2 separate regions of the Homo sapiens genome follow, and region 1 is linked to region 2. A link means that fine-mapping ties the variant in region 2 to the expression of a gene that starts in the linked region. Tissue or cell type: whole blood. Region 2 holds a variant in brackets; the other region holds the start of a gene. All regions are shown on one strand. Distances are between the middles of the regions.

Region 1 (2,606 bases), 68 kb before region 2:
GCTTGAGCCCAGGAGTGTGAAGCCAGCCTGGGCAACATAGTGAGACCCTACCCCAAAAAAGGTAAAAAAAAAAAAAAAAAGGAATAATAAAAAAAATTGACTAGGGCTAATAAGTACGGGATAGACGAGAATAATATTTCTTTTTTTTTTTTTTTTGGGGACAGAGTCTCGCTCTGTCACTCAGGCAGGAGTGCAGTGGCGCAATCTCGGCTCACTGCAAGCTCTGCCTCCCGGGTTCACGCCATTCTTCTGTCTCAGCCTCCCGAGTAGCTGGAACTACAGGCGCCTGCCACCATGCCCGGCTAATTTTTTGTATTTTTAGGAGAGACGGGGTTTCACCGTGTTAGCCAGGATGGTCTCGATCTCCTGACCTCGTGATCCGCCTGCCTCGGCCTCCCAAAGTGCTGGGATTACAGGCGTGAGCCACCGCGCCCGGCCGAGAATATATTATATTTTTCTTGTTATTCATTCAACAAATAGGAACACAGTACCTACTCTGTTGCCACATCTATGCCAGCCCTGTTTCAGGGGTGTTGGGGGAGATGAAATCAATAAAATATGATGTCTACTTTCAGGGATGGATTTCATGCCCCAGGCAGCAGAGTAGGAAGAATGACTATAGTCTCAGTAGCTGCTGGTTGGAGCCTGCCATCACTTCAGATGGGGTTGTTCCCCAGAAGAGGCAACCCGCATACCTTCCCAGGTCCATCCTGGGCTGCCACCTGAGTTGCCTGTCTTCCTTCTGCCACCTCCACCCCTATCCCAGGCCTGCCACTGCTCATAGCAGATTTCCTATCAAAGGCTCTCCTGGCCTCCTCTCTTATCTGTGGCCCCCGCAGGGCACCCACTTTCAGAAACTCCCTGGAAGGCCCAGCACCTGCCTCTCTCCACCCCTGGATTTCTACCAGCTTGGCTGAGGCCTGGGGCTAGTGGGGAGAGCTTCTTGGCCTCTTCCCAGAGGCAAGGGAGGAGGAGGGAGGCTGGGAAAGCCGCTGGGGCTCAGTGTCGCAATTCCGGGCCGTGCTGGGACCTTTGCTCCACGAGGTGCCTATGGAGGGGAGGGAACACGATTCTGGAGGCTGCTGGGATTGGGGTGGGGGTTCCTGGGAGGCAGTCCTTTTGCAAGAGCTGCTAAGAGCGCTGGGTAAGGAGAGGAAGGGGAGAGACATGGAACTTGGCTGGTCTGCAGGGAAATGCCACTGTTTTGGCCGGGAGTAGGGGGCGGGAGTGGCGGGAGAGGGGGTGGCCGGCTGGGGAGGAGCCAGCCTGGTGGAGAAGCTGCCCTGTGGGCGGGGGTGAGGAGGGGAGGGCTGTGGTCACCAGGCAGGAAGGAGGGGTGGCCTGACCCCTCGGCAGTCCCTCCCCTCAGCCTTTCCCCAAATTGCTACTTCTCTGGGGCTCCAGGTCCTGCTTGTGCTCAGCTCCAGCTCACTGGCTGGCCACCGAGACTTCTGGACAGGAAACTGCACCATCCTCTTCTCCCAGCAAGGGGGCTCCAGAGACTGCCCACCCAGGAAGTCTGGTGGCCTGGGGATTTGGTGGGTCTGCTCCTTAGCAGTGGCCTGGGGCTCTGTGTGTGTATCTGGGGTGGGGTCGGGGAATGTCCTAAGGATCTGAGAAGGGGGTTTCTGGGGAGAAGTGAGGGGTGATGGTGATGGAAGCTTGGGACAGGAGCAGGACTCTGGGTCCCAGAATAACTCATGAGGGGCTCAGGGGAGGAGGTCCTCTATGTGAATTGGGGAGATTCTTGGAGACAGGTTTGTGCTGGGACCCTGGAAAGTGGCACGAGCGAGGTTCTCTAATAAGCAGCGTGTTTCACTGGGTGGAGTGAGCTGTCCTCAGTGTTGGAGTGAGGGGGAAGGGGCCCAAGAGAAGCAGGGCAGATGCACCCAAACATTCCCTGCTGGCCTGGAGGGGACTTTGGGGGAGAAAAGCCGGCACGGTGGCTGGGAGCCCAGACTTTGGAGTCAGAGGAGGGTTGGAGTCTTGACTCTACCGCCGCCTAACTGTGTGACCATAGTTACTTAATCTCTTTGAACCTCAGTTTGCTTATCTGTAAAATGAGTTTAAGAATAGTCCTGAGCCAGGAGCAGTAGCGTGCGCCCATAATCTCAGATACTCAGGAAGCTGAAACCTGATTGCTTCAGCCCAGTAGTTTGAGGCGATAGTGTCCTATTATTGCACCTGTGAATAGCACTGAGTTCCAGCCTGGGCAACATAGAGAGACCCCATCTCAAAAAAAAAATTAATAGTTTTGACCTCAGAGGGATATTATGAGGAAAGCACATAAAGCCTTATAACAGGCTGGGCGCAGTGGCTTACTCCAATAATCCCCACACTTTGGGAGGCCCAGGTGAGAGGATCACTTGAGCCCAGGAATTCCTAGACTAGCCTGGGCAAAATAGGGAGAACCTGTCTCTAAAAAACATAATAGTAATATAATAAAGCCTTAGTACAGGCTAATATATGGCAAGTAAATGTTAGCTGATATTGTTGATATTGATAAAAGGGAGGATCAGGTGGAGAAGGGAGCTGAGGCCAGAAAGGAGCCCAGTTCTAGAAGAGTATAATCTGGGTCCTTCCTGCAGGACAGTGCCTTGGTAATG
Region 2 (2,756 bases):
CGTGCGTGCCTGCGTGCTTGTGTGTAAGTAGCTTGTATCTGTCCTCTCTGGAGTGTGTTTATTTGCCTTTTTCTTCTGCGGATTCTTCTTCCTGTTCTTTTCCTTCCTCTGAGTGTTCCCACTCTGTCCCCTGCTCCACAGGCCCCATTCCCTTTCTTTTGATTGGGGAGCACTTGTGGATACATCTTTCCCTCATTGTAATTCCACCATAGGAGCTGACTTTTTTTTTTCTCTCTTGGTCTTTTAACACAGTGTTACCTTTTTCTCTCAGTGGACATTCCTTAAGCTAATTCCTTTCTGAGGCCAGCGCATCATCCCAGGTCCGTTCACAGCTCTGACTCCTCACACAAGTGCCTTCCCTCCTCTTTCCCTGATGTCCGGGTTCCTCTCCCTGAGGCTCTGAGCCAGACCCAAATGTGTGAAGCCCCACAGACCCTGGCCAGGCCGCAGACCCTCAGGGGAGGTGGATGCCTGACTGACGTGGCTGTCTCCCTCCCTCCGCTAGCCGTTGTAGCTCTCTTTCAGGAACGTAGCTGGGCAGCTTTGGTTTAACAGGAAATGGCTGCGCAGGCTGCCAGCAGCCCCTTAGTATATTTTCAATTTAGGACTTAGGGCAGTAGCCAACCCCAAAGACCTTAGGACCATCCCAGAGAGGGGTCTACCTAAGTGCTTTTCTGGACCACAAAGGTGTCAGTACTTCTTGGGGAGCAGACTTCTGACCACATTTTAGCGCCGTGGCCTCTGAAGATGAGATCTTGCTGAGCAACGCCCAGGTGCTCTGCCCTGTTCCTCGTCCTGCCCTTGGCATAGCCCCACTGGGCAGCCATCCAAGCCAGTCTGTGGTTGAAGGCTTGGCCCCTAGAAGATAGACTGCAGAGAAGGGGAGGAAAGCCCGGGTTCTCAATCTCACCTCACAGTTAGTAATGAGATAGCGACCTGCCCCCTATTCTGCCACACAGTGTTCAGTTGGAGTGGAGGAGGCAGCAGACCTCCTGGTGGAGCTGTGCAGTCTGGGGTAAATGGGAAAAGCACAGGCTTCGGTGTGAGGACATGCTTGGATTTGAAGCCCAGCTTCCACGTTCATGGGCAAAGAAACTTTCTGATCCATAGTTTCCTCATGTAGAAAA[TG/T]GGGGTAATACTATTTACTGTGTCACGTAGTAGGTGCAGAGATTAGAAATCGTATTTGTAAAACCCCAAGTAGGTGCTCAGCAAGTGGTAGCTGATATTATTATCACCACATACCTCTTGGGAGATCCTGGATCCTGTTTCAAGGAGGATACCAACACCTCCCACCCTGAGGACAGTCTGAGGGGAGCTTTGCGCCCGTGCCAGCCCTCTGCGCCGGAGGAGGATGCATGGAAGGGTAGAGACCTAATGGGCTGAGTGGGGACCCCTGGGGCACTGTGTCTTACAAGCACTGCCCTGGGCAGAGGGTACGGGCGGGCAGCCCAGGCCAGCAGCAGGGCCTTCGGGTTGGGTTTGACCATTCAAACTAACGCCTTCATTTCTCTCCCATGCTTTCTCCTCCGGCCAGGAGCGGAAGGTACATGCCCTTTCTGCTATCTTCGCTTCTTAGCGCTTTTGAGTTGTGTGCGTGTGGATTCTTCTGTCCTCTCTTTGGGAAATAGACTTTCTTTGTGTGGGTGGGGCTGTAGCTGGGAGAGTGTGCTGTGTGGGGCAGGGGTGGAGCCTGTGGGCCTTACCCCGGCCTCCCTCCCTCTCTTGCAGGTTTTCATAGAGCTGAATCACATTAAAAAGTGCAATACAGTTCGAGGCGTCTTTGTCCTGGAGGAATTTGGTAATTACACTATTTTGCTCTTAGGTCTGGACTCACATGGCAGTAACTCAAACCTCGGAGCTCCAGAGGAGGGTCTAGGGGCAGGGAGAAGAAGAACCTCTGTAGAGAAGTCAGGAGGAGCAGGAGTGACAAGGAAGAAAAGGGACCCCTGAGATGAGAGCCGGGATGTGGAAGGGAAAGATAGATAATGGATCGCAGAAGAGCAAATGGGGCCTCAGGTGGGTTTCGAGTTTAGAGGTGGTCCTGAAGCAGCTCAGTGAAGTAGCACCACCTCCCCGTGCTGGGCCAGCCAGTGGTCAGAAAGTTTGGGACACAGCAGACTGGCGACCCCCAAGCTCCACTATGTCCATGTCACCTGCTGCAATCTCTCTAGCAGCCCAGTGCGCTAGCCAGCCTCCCTGGCGCCGCTCTGGTCTCCACCTGGCCTCTGTGCCAGACAAAGGGGCACCGGGCGTCGCAGGCAGACTCACTTGAGGGACAGAGGAGTCTAGCGGGACAGCTGTAGCCGGAAGCTGGGAGCCAGCGCTAGGGAGTGGTGTAGTGGGTTCTCACCCTGGGGCTTTGAGTTCCTGCTGTGTTTGTGCTTCATTCTTTTGTGCCCCTCATCGCTGCTATGAAAACCTTCGTTCTCCAGCAGGTAAAGTGACCTCGGCTCGTGCTGCCTCTCCCCAGGTCTCTGCCTTGGGCCCTGCCCTGGGTGGGTAGCTCCCATCGAACCAGCTCCTCACACTGCCAGCTCGTCTCTTCCTTTCTCCCCTACCCTCTTTCTTCCTACCTTGCCTCCCCCTTCTCACCGGCTCACTGGACTTTCCTCCCCGTGTGTTCCCTTCTCTCTTCTGTCAGAGAGATACTTGGGGGAATCTTCCAACTCGGGAGAATGGCCTGGGGCTTCTTGCTCTACCTTTGATGAGTTTATTCCCTGCTGACCCTGGGTTCCCCCAAATTCTACCTCCCAGGG

What was found. PIP is the estimated chance that this variant, and not a neighbour inherited with it, causes the effect.
Region 1: it holds the start of NR1H3, and the variant in region 2 is fine-mapped to the expression of NR1H3 in whole blood (TOPMed, PIP above 0.99).

What each region holds. Positions count from the first base shown.
Region 1 is chr11:47,256,592-47,259,197 of GRCh38, forward strand. It overlaps NR1H3 (nuclear receptor subfamily 1 group H member 3), which reads left to right and starts at 1,405. Exons shown (of 10, transcript NM_005693.4): 1 at 1,405-1,538; 2 at 2,589-2,606.
Region 2 is chr11:47,325,010-47,327,765 of GRCh38, forward strand. It overlaps MADD (MAP kinase activating death domain), which reads left to right. Exons shown (of 37, transcript NM_001376571.1): 34 at 1,535-1,543; 35 at 1,729-1,798. Among named protein-coding and RNA genes, the nearest start is that of MYBPC3, 26 kb to the right of the region's middle. The variant TG/T (reference allele first, on the strand shown) is at 1,128.